Linked DNA regions of Homo sapiens: all the other regions are reported to be linked to region 1. The links are microRNA targets in miRTarBase. Many come from high-throughput screens and were not tested one by one. Region 1 holds a microRNA gene; each other region holds the end of a gene's coding sequence.

What was found. Region 1 holds the annotated microRNA hsa-miR-181b-5p (AACAUUCAUUGCUGUCGGUGGGU, at 2,824-2,846, shown strand). A microRNA usually pairs through its seed, bases 2 to 8, with sites in the 3' UTR of a target mRNA and lowers its output. Matches are read on the target gene's strand: a 7mer-m8 pairs with bases 2 to 8, a 7mer-A1 pairs with bases 2 to 7 and ends in A, and an 8mer does both.
Region 2: the mRNA of CBX7 is a reported target of hsa-miR-181b-5p. Seed matches in the 3' UTR shown: 7mer-m8 at 1,908-1,914, 8mer at 1,318-1,325 and 8mer at 1,038-1,045.
Region 3: miRTarBase lists BPTF as a target of hsa-miR-181b-5p. Seed matches in the 3' UTR shown: 7mer-m8 at 1,248-1,254.

Annotation. Positions count from the first base shown.
Region 1 is chr1:198,857,413-198,861,770 of GRCh38, reverse strand. MIR181B1 (microRNA 181b-1) reads left to right here and starts at 2,789; the gene lies at 2,789-2,898. All of the region lies in intron 2 of MIR181A1HG (MIR181A1 host gene), which reads left to right. MIR181A1 (microRNA 181a-1) reads left to right here and starts at 2,618; the gene lies at 2,618-2,727.
Region 2 is chr22:39,129,951-39,134,253 of GRCh38, forward strand. CBX7 (chromobox 7) reads right to left here. Exons shown (of 6, transcript NM_175709.5): 6 at 822-4,098. The coding sequence ends at 3,941. Among named protein-coding and RNA genes, the nearest start is that of CBX7, 21 kb to the right of the region's middle. RefSeq lists enhancers at 1,476-2,037, 3,677-4,303.
Region 3 is chr17:67,981,921-67,985,920 of GRCh38, forward strand. BPTF (bromodomain PHD finger transcription factor) reads left to right here. Exons shown (of 28, transcript NM_182641.4): 28 at 332-2,458. The coding sequence ends at 368. Among named protein-coding and RNA genes, the nearest start is that of C17orf58, 13 kb to the right of the region's middle.

The sequences.
Region 1 (4,358 bases):
TATGGCTTTTTACTGAGGCACATTGCACTACTTTTTTATGTTCCTCTGTCAATTCATGTTAGGGTTTGCTTTGTTTAAAAGTGGTATTTCATGTATTTCGTGACCCTCTTGCACAAAGCAAAAAAATTGCTTTGGTTTATTTATGACCTACTAACCTTAAGCAAAACTGAAATACTTAATGTTCCCACAAGCCTAGGGATGAGAAATGAAAGCTACAATAAATTTGGCTTTGATGCAAATTAGATTGGTTTTATCCTACCCACACAGCCCTCCAAAATTAGGAAGAGGGGGATAAGAGAGTATTTATGCATTAATGACCTATTGCTTGTGACTTTTTTTCATTCAAGGAAAACTATGCAAGAATGCATATTGCTACCACCAACTTGGAATTCTGGAATTATGAACAATGTGTTCTAAAAAATTGCCAGAAAATGTGAAATCTCAGTACCATTGCATCTTAATATTTTAAAGATAAATGATTTATAACTAAGGATTAAGTTGTGAAAATAAAGATGGAAAAGATATAGGATTGGAAGGTACATGACAGTAATTGCAAGACCATATAAGTGAGCAGAAAACTAAATTGCACCAACAAGTAGAACGATTTTTCTGTATTGCTCGAAATAATTTAGAATATAGAGCCTAAAGTTTACTATCTTCTCTGACATTAGATTAATTGGAAGCAAGAACACAGAGATCCTATTTTCCATTGTGGAGGATTTAAACTGTTAAGATATGAGGTTTTATCTTTAACAAACTATGACTATGATTAGCCCAAGGAAAGAAAAAATAATTAATCACTTTATTTATCATTGCTATTTTATGTGTAAATAACAAGACATTTAATGTAACTTCTATTGTTTCAAGTGAATCATTATAAGATTTTTAAGAATTTTAATGTTAAATCAATTATAGTTAAGATTTTTATTCTAAGAATGTAACAACTTTAGGATTAAGTTAATTGTATTCTTCCAAAGACTTCTAGGAGAATATTTTGGAAAACAAAAGATAACATAGTTATGCCTTTTAATTATTTGTAACTGACCTAGAGCTTTGCTTACTGGTAGGCCAAATGCATTTTGTGTTAAGGGAAAATACAGAGCATGGAGTCTTTTATCACAACATCCCTATTATACAAACGTTAGCAGATGTAGCAAGAGATGAATAGGCATGATTGAAAACAGTTGTATATTGACCTGACACTAATACCACAATAGGCAGGCAACAGAACAGGAGTGATATGCTTTCAGTCGTAATTGATAATGCAAACAAATGAATCCTCAGTCTCATGATAATATTCTTTCCAGCAGCAACACAGAAATGCCTACTGATAAAGCATTCTTCTAGGGTTTTATTCTGTGGGAGAAATTTGCTTCTTTCAAAAGAATTAAACAATGCAAAATTCAGATACATCACTGTTTCATATTCTGTGCCTATTTGTCACTTTAAAATTTACTTCCAGTTGATCTCTAGTCCCTGTTTCTCTCAAAAAAAATCTGTTGAAGTTTTCATGTAAATAGTTTGTCTAAAAGGTTAAACAATTATTGGCTTTAAAATAATTCTAAGTGACTGAAATGTAAGAATGTGTAAAAATTTGGGATACATATTTCACTAACATTTCGAGAGTAATTGCCTTGACTTGAATAGACCATTATCACCTTCAAAGTAGCATTCCAAATTATTGTGGGTTGTCCCTCCTACAGATAATTACTCTATAACCATATTAGATGCAACTTAAATGTGTGAAATAATGACTTTCTATTCTGGTTTAGATACATCCAAGGTGACTTTTGTTTTAATTGATGGTAGAAAATTATTGAAAATGGCTCTAAAAATAAATTCAGTAGAGTTCATAATAATTTTAAAATAAGCATTAATGATAAAACAGTCTTAGAAAATAAGACTATGAAAAGAATCCCTCACCCATCTACCCATAAAGAGATGTTAGATGTTAGATGTTATTTAAAATAATAGGAAATGAACGGTTTTGTAGCATACATAGATTGTATTTACCTTTCACTGTATTCATGAACTCTTTGTGCCATAAACTAAGAAAAATGTATTGAGCTGGTTTCTTCACTTATAATTTGTTCAGCATTTTCTAAATAAGATTGTTCTTAGGAAGTTATACTAATTTTAAAACCTTATTTTAGAATAAAATATAGTAAATATATAATGTAAATATAAATGATATCATCAATGCCAATTTGAGGAAATCTAAGGTAATTCTGTTTAATTTCTGTATAAGCTATATACATAATGCTTGCTTACTATAAGCGTAACAATATTTAAATTATAAGATATTGTTTGGATTTTATACCACAAAGTACTTTGAATAACAAATTGTCCCTGTCTTTAACAGTGAGATAATTCCATCTCTGGAACTAGCCCAATATCGGCCATGTTTTTGCTTAATGAAACCGATCCTTTTCTCTCATACAATGTGATGTGGAGGTTTGCCAAACTCTTTGTTGGAAGAATCATGCTTCTTATTTGTCTTCTTTTGTAGTCTTTTGAAATGGCATAAAAATGCATAAAATATATGACTAAAGGTACTGTTGTTTCTGTCTCCCATCCCCTTCAGATACTTACAGATACTGTAAAGTGAGTAGAATTCTGAGTTTTGAGGTTGCTTCAGTGAACATTCAACGCTGTCGGTGAGTTTGGAATTAAAATCAAAACCATCGACCGTTGATTGTACCCTATGGCTAACCATCATCTACTCCATGGTGCTCAGAATTCGCTGAAGACAGGAAACCAAAGGTGGACACACCAGGACTTTCTCTTCCCTGTGCAGAGATTATTTTTTAAAAGGTCACAATCAACATTCATTGCTGTCGGTGGGTTGAACTGTGTGGACAAGCTCACTGAACAATGAATGCAACTGTGGCCCCGCTTTTTGCTGTCACAATCAACAGATATTCCATCTTTGAAAGATGTGTTCAAAATAGTACTATTGTTCTTTAAGTTTTCCAATTCGTCAGCATCTTCTGGTTTATTTATTCAATTTATATCATGTGATGAGATTTCAATGAAAAAGACTCTGGTTTAAACAAGAATAATGCTTCTCTATCTTTTGTATGCTATAAACAGAGCATGTTTTAGAAAAGGCAAAACTATTTTGTCCATCAAACGTACAGTATCATCATCTAGGTTAGCTCACCTTCCTACTGTTGTAGTGTGAGTGAAAAAAAGACATAAAGTAGGACCTCAGCACCCATGCCATTGACAATAACACACTTACAAATATGTGTTCTTTACAACTTTTGTTAGATGTTCTGGTCAAAGTGGGATAGAAACACCAGATAATTTTAGCTTTCTGCTTCTCTGGGTGAGGATTTGCTCATATAATTCTGCCTCTTGCTATGTAACATGCTAAATACGAAGAAAATAATATATACATAACTATATAACTATCAGAACACTCATGACAGTCATATAGTAGATTGATTTTCCCAATTCAATTTCCACTTTAAAACTTTACCCACTTTCTATGTGCATGAACTGCGTGGTTAGACTTACAGTCATGGCCCATTAATTGCCTCATGTTTACTCATCTGACTTTGCAAGTAAAAGCCTATGCATATCATGGTTTTTCTTAAGTGGTTTGCCTCTGCATTTTTATATAGGACATCTGTCATTAAATTTGATCACAGCAGTTTTAAGTTTACCATTTGTAATGATAATAATTATATAGCAAAATAAAATGCTTTCTCAAGTGTCTATGTTTGGAGTACCTGGATGGCTTCAATGTTCATTTTTTTTTAATGGTCAAATAAATTATCCTTTCTTTTCCTTGATCTTTTAAATCCCATTTGCCTTTAACTCCCATTACAGAAACCCATTGCTGGGACCCGGCTCTTGACCTCATCATAACCTTAAAATATTTTACCACATTCGATATCTAATATCCCACTCTGTCTATCACTTCTTACCATTCTAGTTTCTCATTCTCTTATCTCCAAGGCAACTGTCCTTTCAATATCAGTGTTGCTGAAAAATAAAATCACATCATCATATGGACACATTAATACACATACTCAGGGGCCTCCAAGTGCCTCAGTCCCTCAACTCTGACCCAGCATTTCTTCTACTCCACTCCCTCATGTTTAGCCTAAATGTTTACCTCTTTCCTCAACTGCTCCTTTCCACGATTCCACTCTCAACAGATGAACTGACTTCTGTTTTTCATTGAGAAGCTTGAGTCCATGTGATTATTCCCTCCACTTCCTTGTTTATAGCCTATGAATGCGTAGGATTCTGCCCTGAGTTGTCTCACGTGAGCCTCCTGCCTTGCTTGGGACATCTCTTCCCCTGTGATATCCCCCTCCTCTCTCACCATCTGGCTCCATTTCACA
Region 2 (4,303 bases), not on the chromosome of region 1:
AGGACTTGCCCTTGGCTCTGACCACCTGTCTCAACGTTCAGATGTGTGTGCTAAGCTTGGCTGAACACACAGTAGGTGAGCGTTAGCCCCATGACAGTCCTGCGATCCGGAATCTGCCGTTGCAGAGACCTGCGATGCTCACCCCTCCAAGGTTCTGGAATAAAGGACTCTTGGGGAGAAGCAGATAAAAGGTGCCAGAAGCACTTCCAGGCCTCTGATGACACACTACGGACCATGGTGATGGCCTCACCCAGAGACACCCGCAGTTTCCTGTTCCCGTCACCTCAGTGAATTCTCTGTCCATCTGGGGTCTCAGCGAAGGGAAAGACTTGTCCGAGATTATGGCCGGTGACCAGCAGACCTGGGACCTAAACCCCAGGCATTGCCAGGGGCTGAAGCTCTTTCTTCAGCACAGTGGGGACACCACTGTCTGGCCTCTGAGCTGCAGCTCAGCCATTGTAACCCCTGTGACCTGCACATATACATCCAGATGGCCTGCAGGTCCATTATGGCTTGTTCCTGCCCTGCCCCAACTGATCGACCTGGTGACCTTCTTCCGGACAATGAGTATTATGATCTCCCCAACAGGCACCTTGTGACCCCCTCCCCTGCTGACAATAGCTAACCACCTTTCACTGTAACTTTCCACTGCTTACCCCAGTCCTATAAAACTGCCCCACCCCTATCTCCCTTGGCTGACTCTTTTTGGACTCAGCCCACTTGCACCCAAGTGAAATAAACAGCCTTGTTGCTCGCACAAAGTCTGTTGGTGGACGGATGCACTTGACAACCACCAGAAGGAATAATCAAATGCCCAGGAATTTTCTTTTTTTTAAATCATCTTTAATGTATTTTTAATAATTTTTTTGCCTCATTTACCAGATAAATCATCTAAATAAATAGATGCTATACAGTCTCTTACCAATGTCAGTACAAAAATAAAACCGCGCTCTACATCCACTCTGACTCTCCCAGCACACACACACTCAGCAAAGGCATGTGCTTGGAATCAACTCGTGCCCCCGACCCCTCCCAGATACATTCATTTAGTCTGAACAAAGCTCGAAGCTCATTCTGTGCAAAGGAAGCGCTCTTGTGCTGAGACCTGGTGGCCGCAGCTGGCCACTTCGAAAGCAAAAGCTAAACCACCTCACAGAAGCACAGCGCCTGCCCCCAGAACAAGGGGACAGGAGGAGCTTGGCAACGAGGTCATCACCCGAACAGCAGTGACAGTCCTGCATTCCAGGCGGCTGTGCCAGGGGTGGGGGTACCTCCTCCGCACCCCCCACCACAAAAGGAAAAGTGCCCACGGGTCTCTACATTCAAAGCGGGTGGGGGCTGGGGGAAAGAAAGGCAGATGGGCAAATGCTTTCTAAACCCTCCCCCCACCCCCAAGAGTACTGGCCTTTTAAGAGGGCTGCGGGGGTGGAGGTCACTGTCTGCCTTGCTCTACTGGGCCACTCTGGGCTGGAAGGAGGCCTGCACGGCCACAGCCGTAGGTGACCTCATAGAGGTCACCTGTCCTGGAGGATGGTCCTAACGGCCCACAGCCTTTTCCCCCAGGGAGCTGGCTCACTACAGCCCATGAGCCACCTGGCTGCCCTGAGCTGGGCACCTCAGGCCCACCCGTCCCAGGTCACACCCCTGGAGTTCAGCTCTCCCTGAGCCACGGAGTTCCCCATGGGCCATAAAGGGCTGAGTAAGAGGAAAGATGTGTCCTGCTGCTGCAGACAAAAGCAACTGCAGCACCCACACAGAAAGCCCCGTGAATCCACAGACCCACAGATTGCGCAAATAGTTCTTTGAAAGTGACCAGGAAGCAGGAAAAAGGTCCTATGTCCCCTGGGGGATGGGGAGCGTGACTTCTGCTGGAAGCTGCCAGCCATGTTCCAAAGTCATGGGCCAAAACATTCAACTAGAGACCCCCCACAACCCTCTATCATCTTTACCTCCGCTGGGCACCCCTCTCCTGGAAGAGTCCCCTCTGAACCCCAAGCTTCCCCTTCCCCTCCACAGGGCTCCACAGCTGGAGATGGGTGGTGATTCCTGCCGCTCCTTGTCCAGACCCACCCCACGTATTCCTCTAGATTCCATTCCCTGGGCTGGAGGTGAATCAGGTCATCCCGGAGGGGACTGTCCCCCAATGGAAGCACTGAATTGACCGTGGACAACTAAAGATCGAGGAGGAAGGAAAGAGAGACTCAGGGATCTGGGAAGCCTGTCAACAGAGCACCCCATGCAGAAAGGGCTGCAGGCTGTCTTTGGTTTGGGAACCAGGGAAGAAGGGATTTGGGGAAAGAATCACCCTCTCCTTGCCTCAGTAGACTCTGTGACTTCCTGAGGACACAGAGCAGAGCTGCGAGGAGGGCGGGCAGGTCTCAAACTTGCTGGCCGCACTCCACTCTTGGTGTGTGTTACCCTGACTCTGACAGCCAAGGAAAGACAGGGGAGCCGGCCTTTTCCATGCTCCCCTTGGGCCCCCCAATCTGGTTTTGTCTCCCCTACAGGACTGGAAGAGAGGGAGAAGTCACTCCTCACTGGCAGGGAAGCCACGGGCCCCCAGGACACCTTGTACAAACCAGAAAACAAGTGCACCTTGCCAGGGGTGGGCTGGGGCAAAGCCTGCCCATCACACAGCACAGCCTGACCTCAGAGAGGCACGGCAGAGGTCCCTCCACAGGAATACAGCTCAGCCCCAGCTGTGGCATTTAGGTTGGATGGGGAGGGGATGCAGAATGGAAGGAGGAAGGGGCTTAGGAGTCAAGGGCTGCCCTGAGAACGTGGTGGGACACTCCCTCCCTCCCTGACTGCCCACACCTGGGTTGGCTGAGTTGGAGGGGAGGGCAGAAAAAGAGGGGAATTGGAAGGGCTGAAAAGTCACCTGAGTCAGAAAGAACAAGAACCCCTCACGGGAGGAAGGACAGGGTCCAGACGTCTCAAAGCCTGTGCTGATACATCACACAACTTAGCAGACGCCTGCACACCCGCAGCCTGGCCCGGTGCAGCCGAGAAACCACATCTGTATGCCTGGAGCATGGGGTGCCATCGCACCTGTGCCAGACCCCTGCCCTCCACTGAAAGCCGCAAGCAGGTAGCAAGGTGCATGCAAGGTGGGGTGAGTGCAGGTGTGGTGGTGAGGTCTTTTGTGCTGTGAATCACCCCACGTTCGCCTGGCCAGGGTTTCTAACCCAGGTTCGCAAGGCCCATGTGGACACGTCTGCAGCCACACATGCTTTCACGGGGCACATGGGAACGTACACGCGAAGGGTAATGCGTGCACACCTGTGCAGCCAGGTGTGCATGAGCGTTTCTGCACAGGCCAGGTGATGAGGGGAGGGCAGAGCTCTCAGCAGAAGGGTCTCAGCGGCGCCTCCTCCCTGGGAAGGATAGAAGCCTCTCTGAAGGGGAAGGGACTCGCCCCAAGTAACCTCAACCCTTCCTCCTGCCCCTTCCTCCCGCCCCACTCACTTTTGGTCAAAACCAGCCTCCACAGCCCACCGCAAAGCCAGAGAGGAGAGTTCAAGGTAAAGACCCAATTGAAACAAGAGAAAAGGGGAAAACCAGCCAACCAGGCTGGGGTGGCCACTCAAGGGAGAGGGTTTGGGCCTTCCAATGCTCCTTTAACTCCCAGAACCAGCTGCTGCGTCACTAGAGGAGAATGATAATGGTGGTGTCCCGGGCAGGTGATCCTGTCCCCATCCTGCCCTGGGGGTGGTACCCCAACTCCCAGAGCAACTCTCTCCATCCCCAGCCTGAGGCCTCGTGGTAAACGTCCCTCAGAGAAAGGGCAGGTGGTGGGAGAGTAGTGGGATCTTCTCCCCTTTTGCTGCTCGGTATTTTTTTAAATAAAATAATTACCCCGCCCCCAACCCATCCCTATCTCTGGAAGTCCCACCCCAAGCCCAAAAGAAAACAGTTTAAGAAGAGTAAAAACGGTGATTCAGAACTTCCCACTGCGGTCTCGGAAGAAGCCCTCAGCTGCCTGGGCCTCGCGGAAGGTGACGGTGATGGAGTTGGCGGTGATGTCGGTCACGGTCACCTCACTTGAGGGGAGCGCAGGTGTCCAGGGAGGGGGCCCCTCGGCCAGGTCGGCATCTGCTGCAGCGTCAGACACACAGATGGGGGCAGCGTTGACAAGGTGGGAAGCCATGCAGACCACCCAACCCGACCCCAACTCCAGCTCCTCCTCTCTGTGTCTTCAGTCAGCTCAGGGCCTCACACAGGGCTGGACACTTGGGAGGAGGGCACTGGGTGCATCCTCCCCACCTAGACAAGAGCTCAGCCAGAGCGGGACGACAGGAGG
Region 3 (4,000 bases), not on the chromosome of region 1:
AATGCTTCTGTAAATGCCTCTATTTGTCCAGTTGGCTGAAAATGTTGTAATCTTTATTAGACAAATATATATATATATATATATATATATATATATATATATATTTAAATATTGGCTTTTTCCAGTGAGCTATTATGTTTAGTGTACAGTGAAAAGTTTTAATATTATAGGTTAAAATTTTCTTAATCGTTCTTTTCTATTCGCTTGCCAAGGGTGAATGAAAGAACATGGCTGCTTCTCCCAGACTGACTGACCTTGGCATCCGCATAAAGCATCATTGTTTTCAAAAATGAAGGGTGCTTAATTGTTCCCTTTTTTCTATATTCTGTAGGTCTCATAACAACAAACTGCAGTCTACAGCTTCTTAAAGTTCAGCGTGTTAACCTAACATAAAACACAGCAAGAATCTGGTTGTCTGAACTATTTTAAATTAAGGAGCCAGATGTTTTTAGTCAGGCTATCCTGACAAGACTTGACCTAAACTTCGTTTTTATTGGTCATAACAGTCCAATTATATTCTTGGCCAATTTTGTCCAACGGACAAGAAAAAAGCAAAGTCAACGACACCATTATCTTGTCAAGATCAGATGGTTTTACTATTGTGGCAGAAGCGAGAAAACTTTGTTTATTGAAAAAAAAAGAAAAAGAAAGCAAGAAAAAAAGATACTATGGGGTCAAGTGTAACTCCATGGAAATGCCACGTCTGCTCTTCAGTGAAGAAGCTGGTTTAGAGTCTCACAGAAAACTTTTGACTGTATTTATTTATTGTTGCAAAAAAGACGCTTTTTTATTGCTGCCCTCATTTGTCAGCTAATTATTTTTTCTTATAAAATCCAGCCCCGGTTACATATAATCATCTGTATCTTATCATGATTCCTGTAGGTAAAAGTACAAGACGACCTCTAGATGTCTTTTCTTTCTATGAAAGGAGCTGCTATGTACACATGTGCACACACACACAACTGGGAATCAACAATGAGTTTATTGTTCATGGTAGATTAAAATTAAGCTTGCATAAAGGTTGGGCTAAGTGGTCCTGGACTACAGACTCTGTTGCCTTGAATATAACAGTACAATTTGTCAATTACTCTGCACCAGGCTAAAATGAGTAAAATCTATTTGAAGGTATCTTGTTTGTAAACATTTGTCAGATTCTAATTTTTTTCTTTTGTATTAAAATTCAACTATGGATGTATATGAAACAAAATAAATGGAGATAATTTTTCTCCCACAGACAGAGGTGTCTTTGAATGTGCGCTAATGATTATCTGTAAGCCTTTGTGGGGAGGGAGGCCTGCAAGGTCATGAAAGGCAGAAGAGTCTAATTGTGCCTGGATTTCTCCAGGACAGCAGTGGCCCCTCGTTTTATCATTCCCAGTCCATTGTCATCACGTCAGAGAAAAATCTTCAGGGGTGCTAATCCTGTTGCATCAGTTGATCATACTAACGAGAACGGTAATGCGACAAGATACACATTGCCTTCATCTGTACATTCTGTGATACCAGGCAAATTACCAATTACACACAGCTACTTATATTTTATGAAGGGCATTTTTTAGATGACCTCATCCTCTGTGTTATTTGTTGATTGGGTTTGTTTTCTGTTTGTTGGTTTGTTTGTTTCTTCCACGTAAGGAAAAGTAGTGTAAACAGTAGCGAGAAAATGGAAACCACAGAGGAAGATGTATTTTGCATGTTTTTCCTTTCAGTGTTCTTACACGTTGTATCACTGCATTGTGGTAATAGCTTCTATAAAATCTGCCATAGTTGGATTATGCAGCTTTGCAAAAATTTTTACTAGATTTTGCACTAACTCATATTAGCTTTGTCCTACCAACTTCTGGAATTTATCTAATTATTGTTTTTCAAAGTTTCTTTCCTTTTAATGTTTCCCTGCTATGCAAAACCTTTCCCAGACCTCAGTTTCTTAAAAGAAAGATGTTGCTACAGTTCCCGATTCTTTCTTATTACAGGCTCAGGTGTACAGGTTATTCTGGGTTAATTTTATCTAATGAAGCCCATTCCTTTTTGTACATAAAGATGTCACTTAAACTTATGCTTACAAACTAAAGACTAATCGCTCAATATGAAAACATGAAAAAATTTTTGCTTAAAGTATTAAGATGGAAGTAGTTAAATATGGGTTATTTTGTCCTTTTACTTTTTTAAAAAATGTTACATATTGTATGCACTGTGCTGATGCAAGAATTCTACATTTTAATGAGTTATAAAATTATTCTGCATCTCATCACGTCACAGTATTTCTGTACTATTTATTCATATATATAAATATATATGGGCTTAATCATTTAAAATTTGTTGCAGCAAGAACTTTCCTACCTGTAGGCAATAGATTGCTATGTTTTTAACAAATTGTGGCAAATTCTAAACAGCAATTCTTTTGTACGTAATAGGACATTTCATCCTAGAAAAATAAAGTAATGTTTTTGACATTGGATTTGGTGCAGTTTCTAATGAAGCAATGGTTGGTTGGTTAATATGTTTTCTATAGCTGTTAGCCTTGCCAAATTGTACAAAAAGGATAAATTTTATGGAAATCTGAAACCAGGAAGATGTTAATTTCATATGTGTATTTAACGGTATAAAGTGTTGTATAGTTTCTATCACCATACAAATACATAGACATTTTATAGTTTCATCAACTACAGAGCTTTAGTCCTTCAGAAGTAATTTTTGAAAAACATACTTCTTTTTTTTTTTTTTTGAGATGGAGTTTCACTGTTGTTGCCCAGTCTGGAGTGCAATGATGCCATCTCGGCTCACCACAACCTCTGCCTCCCGGGTTCAAGCAATTCTCCTGCCTCAGCCTCCCAAGTAACTGGGATTACAGGCATGCGCCACCACGCCTGGCTAATTTTGTATTTTTAGTAGAGACAGGGTTTCTCCATGTTGGTCAGGCTGGTCTCGAACTCCCGATCCCAGGTGATCCGCCTGCCTCGGCCTCCCAAAGTGCTGGGATTATAGACATGAGCCACCACGCCTGGCCTGAAAACCATACATTCTTATAGAACATAATGAATTCCAAAAGCTGCTTTTCTGTGACAAGCAGAAATCTTTGACAAGCTTCTGCTATTCAGAAAGATCTACATAATACAGCTATTTTGCTTCCAATAATTCAGGCAGTAAACTGTACATTTGTGATATTCTTAGGATGTTTCTACCCCAGGCCTTGGGCTTATAAATACATTTAATTTGCATCAATAGATTTCCTTGGCTAAAAGTATTTTCAGTACCTGTTATACTTTACCTGCCAAGTTCACAATCCTTGAAACCATTTCATGAAAAGTATTTTCCTATTGGTAAAGCTTTTATTCTCCTATCCAAATTCTGCAGGAGGTTTAAATAAAATTGTGGCTGGGCATGGTGGCTCACGCCTATAATCCCAGCACTTTGGGAGACTGAAGCAAGTGGGTCACTTGAGGTCAGGAGTTGGAGAGACCTGCCTGGCCAACATGGTGAAACCCTGTCTCTACTAAAAATACAACAATTTAGCTGGACAAGAGGCACACGCCGGTAGTTCCAGCTACTCAGGAGGCTGAGGTGGGAGGACAGCTTGAACCCGGGAGGCAGAGGTTGCAGTGAGCTGAGATTGTGCCACTACGCTCCAGCCTGGGTGACAGAGCGAGACTCCGTCTCAAAAAAAGTGAGCTTTTGGAGATATTTTCTGAAGGAAAATAATTACCTTTTTATATTTCAAATGGCCTAGAGTGTTATTTAGAGACACTAAGATTTGCTGTTGTTTGTAATCTACCTTCCTAGGATCTGCAAATAAAAGTTACTTCCCTATTTCTGTTAATTCCTTTAGGCAAACTCTCTGCTGCTTTATGTTAAAGAGCCAACCTGGTGGCCTTTCAGATCTCTGCACACTTAGACAAAGCTACATGGTTATTACAGCTTTCGCTCTTCATGATTGAAGCTATTACCGTAGGTCTCAGACTTCTTGTCCTTAATGTGAGAATGGTGATATTTCATGGATAAA